4 separate regions of the Homo sapiens genome follow, and regions 1, 3 and 4 are each reported to be linked to region 2. Evidence: microRNA targets listed by miRTarBase, many of them from high-throughput screens and not tested one by one. Region 2 holds a microRNA gene; each other region holds the end of a gene's coding sequence.

Region 1 (3,245 bases), not on the chromosome of region 2:
TAGTGAGTTCTCATGAGATCTGGTTGTTTACAAGAGTGTGGCACCTACCCCCAATCCCCGCCTCTTGCTCTTCCTCTGGCTATGACTGCTTCCCCTTCGTATTCTGCCATGAATGAAGTTTCCCGAGGCCTCCCCAGAAGCAGAAGCTGCTATGTTTCCTGTTCAGTCTGCAGAACCATGAGCCAATTAAAGCTCTTTTTTTGATTACTCAGTCTCAGGTATTTCTTTATAGCAGTGTGAGAATGGACTAACACAGGTGAGCACCACCACACCCGGCTAACTTTTTTTAGTAGAGATGAGGTCTCGCTGTGTTGCCCAGGCTGGTCTTGACCTCCTGAGCTCAAGCAATCCTCCTGCCTCGGCCTCCCAAAGTGCTGGGATTACAGGCATAAGCCACCATATCCAGCCCAAATTCTCTGATTTGAAAATTCAGTGACTCTAGAAAAATTTCCTGATTCCACATAAATACTCAAATTCCTTGATATGTTGTACTCCTTTATGTCTTATTTTACATAAACAAACTTTATGTAAGTTTATCAGTGCAAAACAGAATTAGAAAAGATGGCAACATAAACCTTCAATTATTATTTAAGAATGGTATGACCTCAACCAAAATCAGATTTAAAAAGAAATATCAGAATTTTTTTTTTTTTTATTAGGGAATCCTAAAAAAAAAAAATTACCATTTGGAATACCTGCTGCACATTAACTTTGAGGGTCGTCTTGGGAAAAAAAATGAGTAATTATTCTTGTCTGGCTTTGTGAAATTTTTCAGAGTAATATCACTAGGAGGAAACTGGATATAATTTGGTACTTTCTCATATGGCAATGACATGAAGTAATAAATGGCAAGTGGGAAAGGGGAAGGAAGAAGAAAAAAGTATAGAATAAATCATAACAGGTAAAAAAAAAGTTTTTTTTGTAAAGAAGGGATAAGGAATTTGAAACTGTAAGAATAGAGTATCAAATTATATATATATATAACAATTTTCTATCTTAAAAATAAAACTGGAATGTTATTTCACTTAAAATGTACAGCATGCAAAATACTCTGTAATAGTAAAAAAAAAAAAAAGAAAAATACACCAACGTAAAGTCTCACAATTTTCCAGTAAATGAGATTTCTGGGTCAAAAATCACCATTACAAACCCTTTAACCAAGGATTTATTTTTTGTTTCCAGCATTACAATTTGCAATAATTCATAGATTTCCATTCCAGTAAGTTTTAAGACACAGATCTCACACAGGCAGTTGGGTCCACATGTTAAGAACTCATTAATTCAGCAAAGAGATCACCCAGCCGCCATTCTCATATGAACAATGCTCACTGCTACCTGAACATTTTAAAGTATGTTATGAGTTGTTTTGATGATGACAGCTGCAGCTTTTCACCACATTTTCAATTACTGAATTGCATGTTTTTTTTCCACCTTGATAACTTAGGGTCAGTAGAAAGCTATTTACTTACATGTTATAGTCAATATAACTATACTAAATGCCCATTTGTAACTGAAGAAACTCACAGACACAGTATGAACTATATTATACAAAATCATGACCATGAGTTTCAGTGAGAGATTCTGTCTCTCTCTTAAAGCAAGAAATATCCCACAGCTCAGATTTACATAAGTAGTGCCGCCTTTTAAATAAAAGTCAAATGCTGTCCTGCCTGTAAAATTATAAATATTTCTAACCCACTTTACAGAATTTTAAAATGCTTATAAATGCATTATCTTCCAGTAAATAAACATTATGGTACTGAACCTCATTTAAAAAAAAGTCATCACACTGGCCCATGGAAATATCTAGGACTATATCTCCTAACATTAGAAAAATTAAACCAAATAAGGGGAAAAAAGCAAAGAAGAAAAAAGAAATTTTACAAAATGGCAACTACTATGACCTAAAAGAGTGTACTGAGATGTCTTCATTCAATTCAGTAACTAAACATTTCTGGAATGAACATTTGTAGATAACTAGGTAAGGAGAGTGATTCTCTTAGCACTCAGGTCAAAATCACAAGGTATGGAGAAATAATTTCCACATTCTATAAGGAAAGACAGACTTTGAAACGGAGTGACTGTTTAAAAACCACATACCAAGATTTAGCCAGAATATTGAAGATTGGCAGATCTTGATGGAGTGAAATCTTCAGAGGCAACAAATTAAAAATCATGATCCTATGGATGCCACTTATTTTTACCAATGTGAAAAAAGGAAAGATGATTGCAAAGTACAGTATACACTGAACAGGTGAAATATGGGACATTATGAACAATTTAAATAACCAAAATGTTCCCTATGGAAGCATAAAAACATGATTTTCAAATTGATTCAACTTGTAGTGTGTCTGTTAGATGTAAGTAGTAGTTTTAGTTCTGTGTCCTGCTGAGTTGCTCTTTACATAAAATATTTCCTTCATCTTAAAAAAAAGGCTTCTGCATGGCACTGAGTCTTTCAGTGTAGGAGAGGAGGAAACTTTGTAGAGTGGACGGACAAACTTGTTTCCAAGGTCCCCACCCAGGTGATTCATTCCATCAAACTCACAGTATCTCCAAATCTACATGTCGAACTTCAGGATTTCGTTTCTGGAAAGAAAAATCACCACCACATTATTTGTAGCAAAATAAAATCTTGTTTCTTTTTATTCCTTTTGGTCATTAGAGCCAATGAAAACATTTGCAAACTATTTCACTATAGCATACTAATGAGAGAAATAGTTGCATAAGAAAAAAAGTAAGATCAATAGGTAAATAGACATACTATAAACAGTACAATAAGTAGTATCACATTCCTAAGTTTGTTCATGTGTTTGTTAATACAAAAGTGCATTAAGGATCTAGTACATGCCAAGCATTGCGAAGCACTGGAAATACACATTTTTGTGTGGTGAAAACAAAATCACTGCAAAACAATAATAATCAAAAAGAGTAAATTGACAACCACTCATTTTATATACTTTAGCAACAATCCATATATTCTTGGGCCGGGCCCTGTGCTAGAAAACAGAGCTATGATTATTAAATAAGACTCTGTTCCTGACCCTGAGTGACTCAGTTTAGCTAGGGAGACCAGCATAGCAGTAATCATCTACAAGTTAAAGTATTAGAGCTAATAATAAAAAGTTAACATTTATTGCTTACTCACTCATGTATCAAGTACTGTGTTACATGAGCACATGTATGTGTGTTTTAAAAGCCTCATAACCTAATTACTATTTCCATCTTATACATACATCAGGGAA
Region 2 (3,245 bases):
GTACTATTTTTCTCCATAAATAAACAAAATGGTAGAAGAGTACACAAAACCATAAACAGATTCTACCTGAGAATTAAACCACTAAAGTAGAAGCCAAGCTTTAGATAGCTACAAAACTGGCCATTACTTCTTATACTTCACTTTTCTGTAAAATATTCTAGGCAGAAGATTTTTTAAAATAAAATCACCAATAAACAATTTTGTTTAAAATTTTTATGAGTCTGTGTGGTCTCCTAACTCTTTAAGAATGAGAAATGTATTTAAGGATTCATTTAAGGAAGTAGATAAAGGCATGGTACAGAATACCTACATATTAATTTGTGGGATGTGTAGACTGAGTTATGAGAATACTCAAGTTAAAAGTCACTTTCGCATTCCTTTCAAACAAAAGGCTTTGTCAGGTGAATGCTATGTTTTATATTTAATTAGCAATAACAAGTAAGATTTAATTGTAACCAAACTCAGCTATTTAGAAGTATCTTGTTTGTAAAACAGCGTAGAATAATGTCAACAATTTAGCAAGAAAACCCAATTCACAGCATTTCAGAGCAAAAAGGGATAGAGGTCCTCTATTGCAACTTCTGTGTCATGGATGAAAACAGTGAGGCTCAAAAAGTTTGAGTGACACATCAAGAAGTGGTAAGAGTCAAGACTAGAACTCATGTCTCCTACTGCCCAGCCTAATGTCCTTTATGCTAATCACACATATTTAACGGCTAGGGTGTTGAATGATACTAGAATGAATTATACATTATATAAATTATTCATTATGCAAATTAATTTTTGTTGTCTCAGTTTTCTGTATTCATGACATATTTGAATTTAACAAGATTCATCTGGTACTTCTAGCTATTTCTACATTTTATGAGTTGTATACATTTTATATCAATAAGTTATAAAACAATAGCAGAAGTCACTTCTTTTTTCCAGATGAGACAGCAAAACCAGAAACTGACCCTTCAACTTTGAAGTAGCTTTTTGTTTGTTTCTTTCCCCTTTATATAGGATGTCTTGAAGCCGAGAAGGAAGAGCTGTTGGAGAGACGAGGAGTTAAGAGTTCATTCGGCTGTCCAGATGTATCCAAGTACCCTGTGTTATTTGGCAATAAATACATCTGGGCAACTGACTGAACTTTTCACTTTTCATGACTCAGCTGGAACCCTCCACAACCAGAAGAGCCTGTTATAAAGTGAAAAGTTTGTGATCTCTTAATCTAATGAAATGGGAAGTAGGAATTGCTTGTGGGTGAAGAGACACCATTGTAAATGTAAGTGGGAATGTATTTTAGTATGCAACTAAATTGATTTTTAAGTGTCTTGACAAAAGATAAAGAGGATTTGTTTTTCTAGCTTGCAAAATTAAAATCAAATTAACAGAAAATTTTGATCTGCTCCCATCAGTGACACTTGTCGTGTACTTAACTCACCGGTATAAAATAACTATTTTATACTGTGATGGAGAGTAGCTGGCAAATGCTGGCAAATATTATTTGTATATTACAATATTTAAAAGATATCTAACCTCAAGCTATGGCTATGTACATGGATCCATCTAATGTATTTACCCCAATCACTCTTTATCTCATGATGCAATTTCATTTTATTCATAGCAATTATCACGATTTGAAATTATCCTACATCTTTGTTTAAATGTTTATTTTCTGTATCTCCAGCTAGAATGTAAGCTCCATTGGAGCAGGGGCCTGGTTTACCTTGTTTACTACTACATGCCCAGCATCTGGCATAGTGCCTGGCATGTAATAAGCAATCGATAAATATTTGAATATATGAAACTACTATTATACAGCTTTTGGTCCTGCAGATCGGTTGGAGTTGGTCTCCAACACAGATATTTAGCATATGGTTTGCTCCATTAGCTCTGCTCTTTGAAAACCTTCAGTTTGTTGTGCTATGTGCATACTAACACTGAGATAATTCCCAGATAGTTCTGCTACCACCTATGGAGAAAGCAGTTTCAAATTGCTGGGCATTCTGCCCACTAAGGCAAATTCTCTCCATGTCTGTTACTACCATCATAGAGTGATTTGCAATAGCTACTTTAAGTCTATCAATTGGGAAGTGTATGTTTTTAAAGTATTATTTTATGTAAATGGAATAGGTCTAGCTGTGAAAAACATAATTTTATATGCTGTAGATTTTGAGTTAACTGTTGTGTGAATTCGCACATAATTTAACAATAATCACGCTCATGGAACATGTCAAACACAAGCAGAGGTATTTAGTAAATACAAATGAGGAGAAAAAAATTTTTTTTTCCATTTGAATTCCAAGCATAGGAGGAACAGGTAAATCTATTTAAATAACCACTTAACATTATCTTGGAGGAGAGGGAATAAAAGTAATGAGCCTAGACTTGCATTCAAATTGAATAATCACTGGTGGAAGAGTAGTCTTTAATTTCATTGATGATAATAACTGAAAAACTTTCTATCAAAATAATAAAAATTATCTGATTTGACTATAATTAGCAAAGGTGAGTTTTTAGTATGACAAATGTATGATTTATTAGAAAATCGCTAGAGTACATTTGAAGTTGAAAGGAAAACTTCCTACAATATTCATTAGTCCTAAGGATAATTTTTGAATTAAATGAGCTCCCCCAAAATTATTGTAAATCTGTGCCACATTAATATAATCTTCCCAGGACTAATCTGAACATTTATGGCTAATTCATTTTTGATTTAGACATCTGCTAAAAGCTCACTGGGTATAATAACTAGAGGGATAATATTTGAATTATGAGTCATAATTTCTGAACACTGAAAATTGATAAAAATCAAACTTCTATATGTATTATTATTTATTCAATTTTTAAATGCTTTGTTATAAAAAGTGAGACAGAAGTGATCTAGTTGACTATATTCTACAATTTCTTTTTTTTTTGAGACAGGGTCTGTTGCCCTAGCTGGAGTAGAATGATGTGATCAGGGCTCACTGCAGCCTCGACCACCTGAGTTCAAGGGATCCTCCCACCTCAGCCTCTCAAGTAGCTAGGACCAGAGGCACACGCCACCACATCTGGCTAATTTTTTGTATTTTTTGTAGACATGGGGTTTTGCCATTTTGTCCAGGCTGGTCTTGAACTCCTGAGCTCAAGCAATCCACCCACTCCGGCCTCCCAAAGTGCTGGGATTATAGGCGTGAGCCATCGCACATGGTCTATTCTACAATTTAAAAAAATTTAGTGTGAAATTTAGTCTTTCAGTTTGATAGAAAATATGCTGC
Region 3 (3,000 bases), not on the chromosome of region 2:
GTCCTGCACCAGTCCCCGGAGCCCGCTGCCCGCGCCTCCCAGGCCCTTCCTCTACCGCCGCTCGCCCACGGACTCCGACGTGTCCCTCGACTCCGAGGACTCCGGGGCTAAGTCTCCAGGCATCCTGGGCTACAATATCTGTCCCCGCGGGTGGAATGGCAGCCTTCGGCTCAAGCGTGGCAGCCTCCCCGCCGAGGCCTCCTGCACCACCTAGAGCCCCACCCCCGACCCCACCCCGGGAGGGCAGAGCCAGAAGAAGGCTCATTAGACCTGGGGGACCCAAAGGGTCTGGCCTCTTTGGGCAGCCCCAGAGATGAGGGGTCAGCAGAGGAGAGCTCTGGGGTTGGGGATGGGTTAGGGACGCAAGCTTGAGTTCTAGCCCTTGCTCTCATTCAGCTGTTGTGTGACCCTGGGTAAGACCCTTCCTTGTTTGACCCTCAGCTTTCCCATCTGTTTAATGGTGGCTTTGGCCAAGGCAATCCACAAACGTCAAAATTCCCCTTCCCATCAGTACACACACCGATGCACACACACTCTCTCTTTCTCTCTCTCTCTCTCTCACACACACACACACACACACACACACACACACACACACACACACTAGTTAGTGCCTTGGATGAGGCGGGGCAGTGTGTATATGGACCCCTGGACTTGCTACCTTCAGGGTTCCATACTCGTCCCTCCCCTCCTGGCTCTGCTGTCTGGAGTCTGGCAAGCGGGGTGTGTTCAGAAGGTCCTAGGCCTGTGTCGCATGTCCAGGCACTGGCCTGACCATCCGGCTCCCTGGCACCAAGTCCCAGGCAGGAGCAGCTGTTTTCCATCCCTTCCCAGACAAGCTCTATTTTTATCACAATGACCTTTAGAGAGGTCTCCCAGGCCAGCTCAAGGTGTCCCACTATCCCCTCTGGAGGGAAGAGGCAGGAAAATTCTCCCCGGGTCCCTGTCATGCTACTTTCTCCATCCCAGTTCAGACTGTCCAGGACATCTTATCTGCAGCCATAAGAGAATTATAAGGCAGTGATTTCCCTTAGGCCCAGGACTTGGGCCTCCAGCTCATCTGTTCCTTCTGGGCCCATTCATGGCAGGTTCTGGGCTCAAAGCTGAACTGGGGAGAGAAGAGATACAGAGCTACCATGTGACTTTACCTGATTGCCCTCAGTTTGGGGTTGCTTATTGGGAAAGAGAGAGACAAAGAGTTACTTGTTACGGGAAATATGAAAAGCATGGCCAGGATGCATAGAGGAGATTCTAGCAGGGGACAGGATTGGCTCAGATGACCCCTGAGGGCTCTTCCAGTCTTGAAATGCATTCCATGATATTAGGAAGTCGGGGGTGGGTGGTGGTGGTGGGCTAGTTGGGCTTGAATTTAGGGGCCGATGAGCTTGGGTACGTGAGCAGGGTGTTAAGTTAGGGTCTGCCTGTATTTCTGGTCCCCTTGGAAATGTCCCCTTCTTCAGTGTCAGACCTCAGTCCCAGTGTCCATATCGTGCCCAGAAAAGTAGACATTATCCTGCCCCATCCCTTCCCCAGTGCACTCTGACCTAGCTAGTGCCTGGTGCCCAGTGACCTGGGGGAGCCTGGCTGCAGGCCCTCACTGGTTCCCTAAACCTTGGTGGCTGTGATTCAGGTCCCCAGGGGGGACTCAGGGAGGAATATGGCTGAGTTCTGTAGTTTCCAGAGTTGGCTGGTAGAGCCTTCTAGAGGTTCAGAATATTAGCTTCAGGATCAGCTGGGGGTATGGAATTGGCTGAGGATCAAACGTATGTAGGTGAAAGGATACCAGGATGTTGCTAAAGGTGAGGGACAGTTTGGGTTTGGGACTTACCGGGGTGATGTTAGATCTGGAACCCCCAAGTGAGGCTGGAGGGAGTTAAGGTCAGTATGGAAGATAGGGTTGGGACAGGGTGCTTTGGAATGAAAGAGTGACCTTAGAGGGCTCCTTGGGCCTCAGGAATGCTCCTGCTGCTGTGAAGATGAGAAGGTGCTCTTACTCAGTTAATGATGAGTGACTATATTTACCAAAGCCCCTACCTGCTGCTGGGTCCCTTGTAGCACAGGAGACTGGGGCTAAGGGCCCCTCCCAGGGAAGGGACACCATCAGGCCTCTGGCTGAGGCAGTAGCATAGAGGATCCATTTCTACCTGCATTTCCCAGAGGACTAGCAGGAGGCAGCCTTGAGAAACCGGCAGTTCCCAAGCCAGCGCCTGGCTGTTCTCTCATTGTCACTGCCCTCTCCCCAACCTCTCCTCTAACCCACTAGAGATTGCCTGTGTCCTGCCTCTTGCCTCTTGTAGAATGCAGCTCTGGCCCTCAATAAATGCTTCCTGCATTCTTCTGCCTCCTGTGTCATTTTCAGCTGTGTCTGATGTCCTTCCCTTCTCCCCAAGCATGGAGCAGTCCATGGGACTCTGGGTGGCTGGGAATATTTGAGACATATGGGATGGGAGCTTGGGAAGAAGCAGCCATGGGGAGAGATGGGAACAACGGACAACTTGAGGCCATAGAAGTACCTGGACTGCAGTCCTGGTCCTGTCATGGACGAGCGGGGTGACCCTGGGTGAGCCCACTCCTTCTCTAGGCCTCAGCTTCCCCATCCGTATAATGGGGAGAGTGGGTCTAGGTAATGTCTCAGGGTGGTATTGTCCAGGCCCTGACCACAGAGCACTATCACCAGAGTGGGCAGGGCCAAGCTGGGTCAGGGCTCTGTGCTCTGAGGCTGTTTCCTCATGGCAGGTGGGGGTGCCAGGGCAGGAAAGGCGCCACTGTAAGAGGTCCCGTCTGAGCCAGGCAGCCCCAGTGAGGCAAGGACTCGGGCCATGAGGCATCCTCTCCTGGCAGGAGTGTCCTTTGGCCAGAGAAGGGGATTGTGATCCTGCTCCCAGGTGAGGCTAAGCTTGCCCTGGGAACACACCTCACTCTTCCTCTCTAGAAGCTCAGGCCCACCGAGGGCCAGGAAGCTAAGGTCAGGGTGGTGGACAGCAGAATCTAGGCTTCTGA
Region 4 (3,245 bases), not on the chromosome of region 2:
CATGAGAGTTGGGTGGCACTGCCACCCAACAGAACTTAGTCTTTAATTTGCAGTGTAATAAGGATGGAATTATTCCTGAGAGAGACTAAGTATAATGCCTGAATAATAATTTGGAGAATTGCTTAGAAAAAGAAGCCATTTTATTTGAGGGAAATAGCCTTGAGGAGTCCTTAGAATTAGAAAACATGGGTTCTGTTGCTAGCCTTATCCTCAATGCCCTGGTCGTTTTCTATAATGGAAACCTTAAATTTATTATTTGGCTTAAAATTAGTATTATGCTTCTTAAATTTCTTTTTTTTTCCCAAACAAAATGCAATCCATTTGTTAATGTAGAGAGGGTGTCCGTGTGATTTTGGCAGCATCATTTATGGTCTCCCTGCCTCAAGTAGTCTACCTGCAAAACGGGGACAACAGTGCCTGTCCAGAACTTTGCTGCAGGGATACTGTGTTATTCAAGAGACCTAGATCAGCAATGCTGGAGATGATGTGTGTTCAAGTGTAAGACGTTAGTTTCCATAAGTAATGGCCTCTGACCTTGTTTTCATGGCTTCTCACATTCCAGATATCCCACTCAACCCTGTCGCTTTGGAAAACTCCTGTTGCTTTTGCCAGCTTTACGTTCTATTAGCCCATCAACTATAGAAGAAGTGTTTTTCAAAAAAACCATCGGCAATGTGCCAATTACAAGACTGCTTTCAGATATGTACAAATCCAGTGATATCTAAGCTCACAAGATACCCACTTTTCAGGATGGGACAGTATCAGATGAACTTCAACCCATGGAGAACAAGCCTCAACTAACAAACCCTTCAGGAAGCATATACCGGGGAATGTGTAGCCTTCAGGAAAAAAATGCCAATTGACACAAAGCATTCCAGTAGCTATGACCTGCCGCCCTGACCAGGATAGGGCGGGTGGGAAGGAGAGGGGTGCAACAGGACCGCCTGCACTGAAAACTCACTGCTGCCATGCCCTGGGAGGGGGCAAACTGGGGGTTGCCACAGGCCGTGCCATTCTGCCTCTTACCTGGAAGATCAGGCTGAACGATCAAAAGCTGAAACATAAGTAGTGCTTTCTCTTCCTTTTTAGCATACAAAGTTTGGTAACCAAATATAGCTCTGTGTATAACATCGTACTGCGGCCTTCAAAACTACGTTATGTTGGAGCATTTATTTTAAAAATAATGGTAGGTTTTAAATTAAAAGTGTTATCAAAAGTTTCCCCTCTATTGTAATACATTATTAAGTGGCCTTCAGAACTGAGTTAATAAGTGAAAAGTAGCTTATGCCATGTGATTTGCTTTTTCTCTATCTTCTTTTTTCTTTTCTTTCTCTTTCTTTTGTTCTTTCTTCTTCTTTTTTAATACCATAGGCCAGGCAACCTTGTCAAAGGAATTGATGGACAAAATGAGATTCTCACCAGGACTTCAGGTTGGATAACATGTCAAAAAGAGAAGAGCTTTACTAAAAGAACATAAGTCAAGGGAGGATGAATAAAAACAGCAAAACCAAATAAAGTGGAGATGAGTGATTGAGTGAGGTAGATTGCTGTCCCGTTAACATAGTGCTGAAACCAAAGGCAGTGGGGGTCCAAACTCGTGGTGCAGCAAGTCACACCAGACAGGAAACGAATATGGACGTAATTGCAGAAGGAACTTCAAGGAGATGAATGAATGCTAAAAGGGTTCTTGACTGATCCATTGCTAACAGCCTGAGACTCTTCAATGCCTTTCCGAAAACTGGTTTCTAGTAAAGCCTTGAATGAACACACACACACACACACACACACACACACACACACACACACACACACACCGTCCTACACTTTAAGCTGCTCCTTTGGTATGACTCTATACTTATGGAAATGTAGAAACAAACATTTTTAAATAGCTGCTGTACTTTTCACATTTTGATTTATTAGGTACTAGCACTGAGGAAAAAAAATTCAGCACTTGGACTATCATAGGATGAGTAAAACTTTTCTTGTACAAAGTGAATTAACTGATTTGTGAAGTTAAAAGGTTGTACTCATTGTATTTACAAAGAATAAAAATATATTGAATTTAAATGAACTCTTTCTGATTTCTTACCCTCCCTCCCTGGCTGGTTCTCACCCACCAGAAACAAGGTAGGGGCAGCAGCTGGTGTTAAAACTGAAGCTCGGAGCACTCCAGCACAGAGCCTGCAGAACTGAACTACAAAGGCAATTTCCTTCTTACAGTGAATACCATTTGGAAAATGATGAATAAAGAAATAAAACGTAAGATTCTGTTCTCTACAGCTCTCAAATGTAATTGCATCTGTTAGAAAAATTGCTGTGTGAGGAGGAAGGAGGCCGATTAACAGAGTCTTCATTCCTTCCTCTGTTTCTAACTCTCTTGCCAACATTTCAATCCTGACCAGTCACTTGAAATCATTTAATGATCAAAAAGATAAAGTATGATAAAGTTCATATGGTGAGTAAGATGTGGAGGGAGCAGTAGAAATGTCATCCAGATGTTCCCAGCAAGTCTTAAGGCACCGGTCCCACAAGCAAAGGCCATCAGAGGTGCCCAAGGCCACAGGCACTGTAGACTCCTTTTGGGTGGCAGCTCCAGCAAGAGATGCTTGTGCCTCTGCTCTTGCTAAAATGGTCTTGCGGACCGTATATGTGAAATTTCAATCAGCTGTGCACTTCTTGTCTACTTATTCTACGGAGAATGAGAATTGGTCTTAAAGAAAAGCACAGTACTCAAAGACTGTGTAAGAATGTCCCTTGCAACACTGTTCGTATTTAACAACTTTAGTATCCATTGACAGATAATAGGTACATTGTGGTGAATACAGACAATGTTACCGTAGGCAAAGTGAATGGCTAGAGCTAATGTATCAACATGGGTAAATCTGAAATACAGTGTGTTTGTGTGTGTTATGGGGAAAGTAAATTGCAGAGGGCACATACAGCTTGGTATCATTTATATAAAGTTTTACAACCTACAGAACAATACTAGACAATGTTTATGGGCATATAAATGTATAGGAAACATTTAAAACAGGCATGAGTATTATAAACACTAACTGCTGGATAGTGGCTACTTCCAAGAAGAGATGGGATGGGTGAAGGGTATAACAGGACCCTCAAATGTTTCTGTAATGGTTAATTTCATAAGAAAAAAATCTCAAACAAATATGAGATGAATGACAAGATTTAGTAAAGCTGAGTGATGGGTCCAAGGCTGTTCATCTGTGTATCAGTCAAGTTTTCCT

The links. Region 2 holds the annotated microRNA hsa-miR-1298-5p (UUCAUUCGGCUGUCCAGAUGUA, at 1,058-1,079, shown strand). A microRNA usually pairs through its seed, bases 2 to 8, with sites in the 3' UTR of a target mRNA and lowers its output. Matches are read on the target gene's strand: a 7mer-m8 pairs with bases 2 to 8, a 7mer-A1 pairs with bases 2 to 7 and ends in A, and an 8mer does both.
Region 1: miRTarBase lists SLC30A9 as a target of hsa-miR-1298-5p. Seed matches in the 3' UTR shown: 7mer-A1 at 2,530-2,536 and 7mer-A1 at 1,928-1,934.
Region 3: the mRNA of SYNPO is a reported target of hsa-miR-1298-5p. Seed matches in the 3' UTR shown: 7mer-A1 at 1,916-1,922.
Region 4: the mRNA of NR2E1 is a reported target of hsa-miR-1298-5p. Seed matches in the 3' UTR shown: 7mer-A1 at 1,667-1,673 and 7mer-A1 at 1,759-1,765.

Annotation. Positions count from the first base shown.
Region 1 is chr4:42,085,426-42,088,670 of GRCh38, reverse strand. SLC30A9 (solute carrier family 30 member 9) reads right to left here. Exons shown (of 18, transcript NM_006345.4): 18 at 1-2,589. The coding sequence ends at 2,545. Among named protein-coding and RNA genes, the nearest start is that of BEND4, 66 kb to the left of the region's middle.
Region 2 is chrX:114,714,193-114,717,437 of GRCh38, forward strand. MIR1298 (microRNA 1298) reads left to right here and starts at 1,041; the gene lies at 1,041-1,152. The region is part of intron 2 of HTR2C (5-hydroxytryptamine receptor 2C); the gene reads left to right.
Region 3 is chr5:150,656,874-150,659,873 of GRCh38, forward strand. SYNPO (synaptopodin) reads left to right here. Exons shown (of 3, transcript NM_007286.6): 3 at 1-2,334. The coding sequence ends at 214. Among named protein-coding and RNA genes, the nearest start is that of MYOZ3, 2.9 kb to the right of the region's middle.
Region 4 is chr6:108,186,739-108,189,983 of GRCh38, forward strand. NR2E1 (nuclear receptor subfamily 2 group E member 1) reads left to right here. Exons shown (of 9, transcript NM_003269.5): 9 at 563-2,067. The coding sequence ends at 725. Among named protein-coding and RNA genes, the nearest start is that of NR2E1, 22 kb to the left of the region's middle.